Regions from separate parts of the Homo sapiens genome. Here region 2 is linked to region 1. Evidence: fine-mapped expression QTL. A gene starts in region 1. The other region holds a variant in brackets. All regions are shown on one strand. Distances are from middle to middle. Region 1 holds the start of DYRK1B (dual specificity tyrosine phosphorylation regulated kinase 1B). Region 2 overlaps LOC124904719 (a long non-coding RNA gene).

Region 1 (5,380 bases):
GGTCAGGATTTGAACCCAGCCTCTCCAAACCCTGACTCTGCCTGAAAACTCCTCTGTTATTTTCCAATCCCATGGGACCCATTATGTGCCCAGAAGAATGTCTTGGGCAACCACACTACCTTTTGGTCTGGAGACCTTTCTATCCCCAGCCTCCCCCTACCACCACGCAGGTGAGGAGCCAGCTGAACGCGTACCTGCGTGTGCTCCTGGGGCCCTGGGAAGCCAGAGAAGGGACCATGGCCCGGTGGGACGGCCATGGTGGGCTCAGAGGGCCGCAGGGGAGCGAGGCCTGGAGCGGGAGCCCGGCCGGGGGGCGCCTTCTTGCATCCTGCACCTCGGCTGCCACCGCCGCTGAGACCTGAGAGCAGACAGGAAGTGGGAAAACAACATGGAACAAGGGGATATGTGAATAGTGCCAGGCGGGGAAGAGTGGACATGAGAAAGACAGGGCACAGAGAGAAGAGGAAAAGGGCACAACGGAGCAGCAGATAGCAATGAAGAGAAGGGGCAGAGAAGTGGTAGCCAGGTGGGGGGGGATGGCACAGCAGTCCCTCGACAAATAATGATCAAGTAAATGATTAAGGCAGCACAAAGAGAACACATAAAAGACAATGATTGGGGGCCAAGCAGGGGTCGATATGAGCCATCACAGGGAAAGGAGGACAGGAAGACACCAATAATTCAGAGGAGGAAAAGAAAAAAGAAACCACAGACAGTATGCAGAGGAGTAGGCTTCATTCTTTTCTCACTACTCGTGGCCCTCCCCAGGGCCCCTAACACAAGATGCCACTTTCTGTAGTCTTCCCTGAACATCAGGATCTCAGCCCGTAGCACAGCCAGGGCCAATACTTTAAGATCTATCCTTCTCAGTAGATTCCCTCAACCCAGAGAACTCTAGGATTCCCAAACCACATGAGTCTTCCCCTCCCAAACCACAGCAGAGTCCTCTGCAGCCCTAAAACCACATCAGCGTCCTTGGGGACCTCCCAACCACACCAAAGTTATCTGAGAACCTCTATAGAACAGAGTCCTATCTCTACAGCATTCTCATCCACCAGGGCACGATTTTCCTAGGGGACCCTCTCCATATCATGCCAAGACCGCTTCCCTATTTCAGGTCCTCCATATTAGGAACCAGCCTTCCAGGTAGTCTCCCTGTACCATATCCCAATTCCCCCTACCACAACAGGGTTCTTCCCCATATTACTCCAATATCCCATCCCAATCAAGGCCCACTCCTCCTGATGGGAGAAGGAGGAGGTGTCTCTTCCCACAGTTTAGAGTGATCATCCTTTTCTCCCCTACACTGCTTCCTTGCCCCCCTACACACACACACACACCCTAATATTCCTACCACAGACCTTTCTCCAGGCACCCCTCTTTATACCAGGGTCATTCCACAACTGTGTCCACTCCTAGAGGGCCTCAAAGTCAAATCCCCAAGTTATCACATAGGGTTCTCTCCTCCCAGAGTTGTCAGCTACAGCAAAAATCTTCTCCCCATGGGCCACTCTCTCCCCCATGTCAAATCCCTTTCTCCTATTCCATGCCTTGCCACTCCACGACTCCTCCACCCTTGGAGCTTCCCCCAAAAAACCACCTCTTCTCCGGGGCCCTCCCACACCAGGATCATCTCTCCCAGCCCCCACCCCCTACCCGGGTCAGGGCTGGCGCGGGGCCCACGGGGGGCTGGGGCGCGGTGGGGCCCCCAGTGGGGTGGGCGAGCGGCCAGCATGGCGGCGGTGGCGGCGCTGAAAAGGCGACCGCCTGTCTCTGGCCCGGCCGGCCCCGCGGCGGGGAGGGCAAGCGGGACAGGAGGCCCGGTGGGTGACAACAGCAGCCGCCACTGCCACCGGGGGCGGGGAGAGGAGGGGACAAGGGTCAGCCCAGGGCACGCGGGGGAAGAGTAGAGCAGGTGGACGGGGGAGGGGCGACACGCCCCACCCTGAGTGACCACCAGCCCCTAGGGACCCGGCGTCCCGCCCCCCACCCAGGAGGCCCTCCTGGGCCTGCTGAGACCGGAAGGCGGGGCCCGACTGAGCTTGGCAATCGGCACCTGCCATGGCAACAACTGTACCATTGGTCGCTGGTGCCAAGAGCTCAGCCAATCACAGCCTAGGGCAGCTGTTGCTAGGCGACGAAGAAGCGGCCCGCGGAGCTGAGCCCAAACAAAGGGCGGGAGTGGGGCCCGGCTACCCCCTCCCAGCCTCCCTCCTGCAACTGCTTCCTCGGGCTTGGCCGGTTCCAGGAATTCAACTATGAATAGCCAGGCAGGGCCCGCACCTGCCTGCCACCCCCCTCCTCTCCTCCCTTGGCCTCGTGCTAAGTCTCACGGCGACGGGAGCAGGGCGGATCCCGTCCTGCCCACCTCCCTGCGACCGCTTGCCGCCCCACCCGTCCCCGCGCCGTTACCTGAAGGAGCGGGCAAGGGGACTCAAACTGCTCGGGGAGCCCGAGCTCAGACCTGCCCACTGGCTGAGGGTATCCGGCGGACGCGGCAAGCCAGGGCCCCGATTACCCAGTAATGCAACCAGCAAAATGGCGACCACAACAAACCGGCCCCCCCACGCCCTGGACTCCGCCCCCATCCCTCCCTCTCCGCTCCCCTCACGTGACCCACACTGACACTCCGCCTGCGCGAGATGGCCGCTTACCTGCACGCATGCGCAGCGAGCTACCAATCCCACCCAAGAACCGAAATCCAGGCTGCCGCTGCGCAAAGGCAGCTAGAAACGGAGCATGCGCTCTGTGACCGAGTGAGAATTTACCCAACCCCGCAAAATTGACCAAGGGTGCGTGCTCCCTGTGTCAGCAGGTCAAGGGGAGGAATGAGCAGCAGACATGGGAGACGGATGAGTCTTTTAATAGAAAAACACACGTGCAACAGTATCAACACACATCTCTCGCAATCCTGACAGCGCTGAACTTCAGTTCTTCACCTTGGGGGGTGGCCTGTGAGAGGAAGATAGGTGATGAAGGAGGGTCCCCAGGATCATGGCACTCGGGGTGCAAGGGACAGAGATGTCTGTCTTGGTGTATTGCTGGGCCCCTGCTCACCTGTACACTCCCACGACCACGGCATGGTCTCTTTCATATGGCTCAAGGGTCAACTGCTCCTGCGGCTTCATGTTCTCCTGTTGCATCTTTTTCACTTCGGAGGCAAACACGGCCTCGGCTGAGGCTGTGGAGTCAATGCAGTTGGCCTAAAGAGGAGAAAGGACTAATGTCTACAACAGGGCTTTGGGCTGTTTTTCTCTTGTGTGCTCTTTAAACCAGATGTTTTCATTATTAATTCAAGTAAAACTCAGTGCTATGGTTCTAGTGTGTCCCCCAAAGTTCATGTGTTGGAAACGTAACCCTTAAATGCAAGAGTTGAGAGGTGGGACCTTCGAGAGATGATTCAGGTCATGAGGCCTCTGCCTTCCTGAATAGAGTAATGCTATTATCACAAGAGTGGGTTGCTGATTAAAAGGATGATTATGCCCCCTTTCTATCTTGCTCTCACCCTTCTGCCAATGGATGACAGCAAGAAGGCCCTCGCCAGATTCAGACCTCCAATCTTGGACTTTCCAGCCTTTGGAACTGGGAGCCAAATAAATTTCCATTCATTATAAATTACCCAGTCTAAGGCTGGGCGTGGTGGCTCACGCCTGTAATCCCAGCACTTTGGGAGGCCGAGGTGGCTCAATCACGAAATCAGGAGATTGAGACCATCCTGGCCAACACGGTGAAACCCTATCTCTACTAAAAATACAAAAATTAGTCGGGTGTGGTGGCGCACACCTGTAGTCCCACCTACTCGGGAAGCTGACGCAGGAGAATCGCTTGAACCCAGGAACTGGAGGTTGCAGTGAGCCGAGATCGTACCACTGCACTCCAACCTGGTGACAGAGTAAGACTCCATCTCAAAAAAATAAAAATAAAAATAAAAATAAATAAATTACCCAGTCTATAGCATTCTGTGATAGCTGCATAAAATGGGCTAAGACACTCGGGTTTAGGAAATGTGATAAAAGGCTTAATGAAAGTTTTTGGCTGGGTGCAGTGGCTCGTGCCTGTAATCCTAGCACTTTGGGAGCCTGAGACAGGCAGATTGCCTGAGCTCAGGAGCTCCAGAGCAGCCTGAGCAACATGGCAAAACCCCGTCTCCACTAAAAATATAAAAGTTAGCCAGGTGTGGTGGCACACGCCTGTAGTCCCAGCTACTTAGGAGGCTGAGGCAGAAGAATTGCTTGAACCTGGGAGGCAGAGGTTGCAGTGAGCTGAGATTGCACCACTTCACGCCAGCCTTGGTGACAGAGCGAGACTCTGTCTCAAATTAAAAAAAAAAAAAGTTTTTAGTTTTGTTTTGGATTTGAAGCAGGAAGCCTTAAACAGTCCTATTTATCTAAAAGCCAGTGCTTAAATTTTATACCCAGGAATTGTTTGGCTTATTTCTACTTCCTCTTCTTTAATAATAGTAATAATGCAGTTGAGAATAATAAAACAAATGTAGCAAAAGGCTAACAAATGGTGAACCTTGTGAAGGGTGCATGGGAGAGTTCTCCATTATTTCCAAATAAAAATGCTGTGAAAGATGCACCTAGCTTTTATCTAGTATCTATTCTATGCCAGGATCTTTTCTAAACACTTCATATTATATTGACTAATTTGATCCTGTCATCTACCCTGAAAAAGACTAGACAATATTTCTATTTCATAAGTGAGGAAACTGAGGCATATAGGTTAAGTAACTTGCTCAGTCACACAGCAGGCTGGGATTAAACTCAGATGGTCAGACTCAATTTTGCACTTGACCGCTGCACTCTCCTGCCTCTTTAAATCCAAAGCTATAGTTTTGCAGACTTGGCCCCTCTGTTTTGGGTGGCTATTTGACAGATACAGATAGAGAAGATACCTCCCTAGAACACTGCCACCCCATCTTAGACTCTTCCAAACCCCGCACCTTAATGGAAATCACAAAGTGTCCTCCATTACGCAGGAAGGTGTGGGCATTCAGGGCCACAATCCGGGTCTGGTCTGGCTGGGCCACATCAGCAAAGATCACATCCACCATTGCTAAGGAGAAAGGAGCAGCAGTTAAAAGTTGGAGTCACAGGGATCACCCCAGATCCTCCCATGGGGCCTATGCCCATCACCAGCAGGTTCCTGGGAGATTCTCCCTGCCTCCAGTTTCACTCCCCACCTCCACTGGTCCCCCTCCCTCCAGTGTCCCAAGATGAGTCCAAAACCCACAGTCACATCATTCATCCACTCTTCTTGTAAACCATGGTTGCCACCTACTCTGTGGCCAGCCCTGGGCCGGGCGTGGGGGACATAGAGACGAGTCAGACCCGGACCCTGCCCTCGAGACGCTCCCAGGTCTGGTGGGGAGACAGAC
Region 2 (5,380 bases), 34 kb before region 1:
TTTCAACAAAATCTCACCATTTTTAGAGTATAAGTTTTGCATTTCTTTTGCTAAATTTATTCCGAATTTTTTATTGGTTTTGATGCTATTGTAAATGGAATTGTTTTCTTGATTTCGTTTTCAGATTATTCATTGCAAGCATATGGAAATACAATTGATTTTTATATATTGACCTGGTATCCTGCAACCTTGCTGAACTTGTTCAATAGTTCTAACAGTTATTTGCTGGACTTCTTAGGATTTTTCTATATACAAGATCATGTCATCTGCAAAGAGTTTACTTCTTCCTTTCAATCTGGATGGATGCTTTTTTTTTTTTTTTTTCCTTTCATGCCTATCCTGACTAGAACCTCCAGTACAATGGTGAAGTGGTGGAAGCAGACACCTTTGCCTTGTTCCTGATCTTCGGGGGAAAGCATCCAGTCTGTTTTCACTAAGTATGATGTTAGATGTGCTTCGTAGAGGCCCCAGTGTCAGGTTGGGGAAGTTCTCTTCTATTGTTAACTTCCTGAGAGTTTTTACCATGAATGGGATTTTGCTAAATGCTTGTTTTGTATCTATTGAGATGATCATGTGGTTTTTGTTTTGTATTCAACTGATAGGATATACTATATTAATTGATTTGGGGATGTAAAACCAATCTTGCATTCATCCTGTGATAAAGCTCATTTTTCATGGTACGTACTTCTTTTTATATATTACTGGATTCCATTTGCTAGTATTTATTTGAGGATTTTTGCATCTGTATTGGTAAAAAGATATTGGGCTGTAGGTTTCTTGTGGTGTCTTTGCTTGGTCTTGGTACCAGGGTAATACTGGCCTTAAGAATGAGTTGGGCAGTGTTCCCTCTTCTATTTATTGGAAACCTTTGTGAAGAACTGATATTAATTCTTCTTCAAATGTTTGGTAGGGTCAGTGGTGAAGGGCCTAGGGTTTTCTTTGTGGGTAGTTTTTATATTATTAATTCACTTTCTTTGCTTGCTATAGATTTATGTAGATGTCCTATTTCTCTTAGACTCAGTTTCAGTAGTTTGTGTCTTTCTAGAAATTTGTTTTTCATCTCAAGTATCTAGTTTATTAGCAAATAGTTGCTCACAGCATTTATTTCTATAAGGTTGGTAGTAATGTCTCCTCTTTCATTTCTTTTTTTAAAAATTTAAATTTTATTTTAATTGAAAAAATAGTAATTATATATATTTATGGGGTACAATGTGATGTTTTGCTATGTTTATATTGTTAAATGGTTAAATAAAACTAATTAATAAATCTGTCACCTCACATACTTATTTTTCATGATGACATTTATGATAAGTGAAATAAGCCAGGCACAGAAAGACAAATAGACTCCATATATATGTGAGATACATGGAATCTAAAAGAGTCAAACTCACAGAAGTGGAGAGTAAAATGGTGATTACCAGAGGCTGGGGAGGAAGATGGATGGGGAAAGGGAAACTGTTGATCAAAAGGTACAGTTTCAGTTAGACAGGAAGAATAAACTTTAGTAATCTATTGCATAAAATGGTAATTATAATAAATAATAATTTATTGTACATTTCGAAGTCCCTTTTTCATTTTTGATTCTAGTAATCCAGTCTGCTATTTTTTCCTGGTATATCTAGCCAATGTTTTGCCAATATTTTGGTTTGTAAAAGAGTCAACTCTTGGTTTGGTTGATTTTCTCTATTGTTTTTCTATTCTCTATTTCACTTATTTCTGCTCCAATCTTTTATTATTTTCTTTTTCTACTTGCTTTATGTGTAGCTTGCTCTTCTTTTTCAGTGTCTTAAGGTGAAAATTTAGGTTATTTTCAATCACTTCCTTAATATAGGCATATACATCTATCAGATTTCTTTTAAGCACTGTTTTTGCTGTATCCTACAAGTTATAAGGTATATTATGTCTTCATTTTCATTTATATCAAAGTATTTTCTAAGTCCCTTTTAATTTCTTCTTTGACCTCTTGGTTATTTAAAAGTGCATTGTTTATGAGAACATATGGACACAGGGAGGGGAACAACACACATTGGGGCCTGGGGGTGGGTGAAGGGAGAGCATCAGGTTGGATAGCAAATGTAATGCATGCGGGGCTTAATACCTAGGTGATGGGCTAACAGGTGCAGCAAACCACCTTGGCTCAGGTTTACCTATGTAAAAAACCTGCACATCCTGCACATGTATCCCAGAACGTAAAATTAAATTAAATTAAAATTTAAAAGAGAGTGCATTGTTTAATTTCCACATACTTGTGAGTTCCCCAGATTTCTGTCTTTTATTTATATATAATTTCATTATGTTGTTATCAGAAAGTATGCATTGTATTTCTACTCCTTTAAATTTATCAAGGTTTATGGCCTAGCATGTGGTTTATCCTGGAGAGTGTTCCATGTGCACTTGAGAAGAATACAAATTCTCCTGTTCTACAGATATCTGCTAGGTCTAGTTGGTTTATAGTGTTGCTCAAGTGTTTTATTTCCTTATTGATTTTCTGCCCAATTGTTCTATTCGTTATTTTTTTCCTGACTTGAGGTATGACTGACAAATAAAAATTGTATATATTTAAGATGTACAATGTGATGTTTTGATATACATTGTGAAATGATTACCACAACTAAGCTAATTAATATATTCATCATCTCATATAGTTACAACATTTTTTTAAAGTTGGGTATCAAAATCTCCAAATATTGTTGCTTATTGTGTATTTCTTCATTTCTGTCAGTATTTATTTAATGCATGTCGGGGCTCTGTTGTTGGATGCCTATGTGTTTATAATTGTTACATCTTCCTGATACAGTGACCTGTAGATCATAACATATTTCTTATGTCTGGTAACGTTTTTTAAAGTCTATTTTGCATTATTAGTATCGCTGTTCCAGCTTCCTTGTGGTTGCTGTTTGCATGATATATCTTTTTTCTTTCTATTACTTTCAAT[A/C]TTTTGTATCTTTGAATCTAAAGTTTGTCTTCTGTACACAGAATATCATTGGATATTGTTTTTTAATACAGTCTGAAAGTCTCTGCCTTTTGATTTATTCAATCCATTCACTTTTAAAGTTATTAATGATATAGTTAGATTTACATTTGCCATTTCACTTTTTCTTTTCTATGTCTTATGTCTTTTTTGCTCTTCTATTCCTCCTTTATGTTTTCTTTTATATTAAGTGAAAGTTTTCTAATATAGGATTTTAATTTCTTTACTGATTTTTTCACTAATTTCTGAATTATTTCCTCCGTGGTTGCTCTACGGCTTATCATATACATCTTATCAAAATGAGCTTCAGATTTATACTAACTTAATCCTAGTGAGATATAGAAACATTGTTCCTATGAAGCTCTATTGCCTTTTCCCACTTTTTGTTAGATGTTATACATATTGCATCAAACATTATAAACCCAGGAATGCACTGCTTTAATTATTTTTTTATACACTTTTTTTTTTTGAGACCGAGTTTCACTCTTATTGCGCAGGCTGGAGCGCAATGGCGCGATCTCGGCTCACTGCAACCTCTGCCTCCCGAGTTCAAGCGATTCTCCTGCCTCAGCCTCCCTCGTAGCTGGGATTACAGGCATGCGCCACCACGCCCAGCTAATTTTGTATTTTTAGTAGAGATGGGGTTTCTCCATGTTGGTCAGGCTGGTCTCGAACTCCCAACCTCAGGTGATCCACCTGCCTCAGCCTCCCAAAGTGCCAGCCCTATTACAAGCGTGTTAATTTTATCGTGAGAAGAAGCTGTTACTCTTACTGGGGGTTCCCTTGTAAGTGACAAGGCATTTTCTTTTTTCTGCTTTCAATTTTTTTCCTTGTCCTTGGCTGTCAGTATTCTTACCAAGATGTGTCTGTGTGTGTGTGTGTCTGTGTTCATTCTACTTGAAGTTCATTCAGCTTCTTGGATAGGTATTTTATTGTTTTTCAATAAACTTAGGAAGTTTTAAGCCACTGTTTATTAGAACAATTTTTCTGTTTCTTTCTCTTTCCTCTCCTTCTGCCATTCCTATTGTTTTGCTTAATGGTGTTCCACATTTCTCTAGGGCTCTACTTATTTTTTCATCTTTGTTCTTTCCCCCCATTCTTTGGATTGCATTATTTCTATTTTCTTTTCTTTTTCTTTTTTTTTTTTTTTTTTTTTTGAGATGGAGTCTCGCTCTGTCACCCAGGCTAGAGTGCAGTGGCGCAATCTCGGCTCACTGCGTTCAAGTGATTCTCCTGCCTCAGCCCCCTGAGTAGCTGGGACTACACGTGTGCCACCATGCCTGGCTAAGTTTTGTATTTTTAGTAGAGGTGGGGTTTCACCATGTTAGCCAGGATGGCCTCGATCTCCAGACCTCATGATCCGCCTGCTTTGGCCTCCCAAAGTGCTGGGATTACAGGCGTGAGCCACCACACCCAGCCTTATTTCTACTTTCAAGTTTGCTAATTCTTCTGTCAATTCAAATCTACTATTGAGCTTCTCTAGTATATTTTTTTCATTTCGGTTATTATACTTTTAGCTCTCGATTTCCATTTGGTTTTATTTTATAATGTCTAACTTTTTAGCGATATTTTTTATTTGACCATACCTTTCCTTTCCTTTTTTAAAAAAATGGGTTTCCTTTAGTTATTTGAACAGATTTATAATGGCTACTTTGAAGGCTTTGTGTGCTCAGTCTGACATCTGGTTGCTTTCACTGGACGTTTCTGTTGCCCGCTTTTTTTCCAGTGTAAGGGTAACATTTCGTTTCTTCCAGAACCCATAGCACTTCTCTTTCCTAACTAGCATTGTCCAGTAAAACACCTGTAGTGATAGAAATGTTTATATCTGCCCTGTCCAATGTAATAGCCACTAGCCACATGTGGCTATTGAGCACTTGCAATGTGGCTAGTGTAACTAAGAAAGTGAATTTTAAATTTTATTTCATTTCGATTAAGCATAAATAGCCATATTTAACTTCAAGAAGATAAGTGGCTATCTTCTTGAACAATGCAATTGTAGGCCATGCTCAGAGTACCAATTCCTTAGAATTCCCTACTCAAATGTTCCCAAACCTGCTTCCAGCAACTGTTTGGGCCTCTTCCTAGTCCATCTTCTACCTGACACCCAGAACAGATCATGCTGGTACGCACACCCCAAACCCAAGGGGTAGGCAAGAGGTGATGTGGGGTACATGCACCAAGCTCCAATGTGCAGGCTTGGTATCCACATACATGCATGAATAACTCCTTAGGGGTACAGGACATCAACAAGGAAGGCAAGAGAAGGGAGTAAGCTATAGATAGGGCGCCTCCATTTGTACTCTTTGTCCAGGATCCACAAATGCTAGAGATGTCTTTGACTGGTAATGTCCCATTTCTTAGCTATGTGATGGCTACATGTGTGTTCACTGTATAATTTTTTGACTCTAT

What was found. PIP is the estimated chance that this variant, and not a neighbour inherited with it, causes the effect. A credible set is the group of variants that fine-mapping cannot tell apart.
Region 2: its variant is the best candidate, but not a certain one, in a credible set for the expression of DYRK1B in whole blood (INTERVAL, PIP 0.76).

The regions. Positions count from the first base shown.
Region 1 is chr19:39,831,611-39,836,990 of GRCh38, forward strand. DYRK1B (dual specificity tyrosine phosphorylation regulated kinase 1B) reads right to left here and starts at 2,552. Exons shown (of 11, transcript NM_004714.3): 1 at 2,413-2,552; 2 at 195-358. The coding sequence starts at 257. It overlaps FBL (fibrillarin), which reads right to left. Exons shown (of 9, transcript NM_001436.4): 7 at 4,946-5,058; 8 at 3,058-3,203; 9 at 2,848-2,952. The coding sequence ends at 2,928. RefSeq lists silencers at 1,725-1,994, 2,255-2,364.
Region 2 is chr19:39,797,215-39,802,594 of GRCh38, forward strand. All of the region lies in intron 1 of LOC124904719 (a long non-coding RNA gene), which reads right to left. Among named protein-coding and RNA genes, the nearest start is that of LEUTX, 21 kb to the left of the region's middle. The variant A/C (reference allele first, on the strand shown) is at 2,936.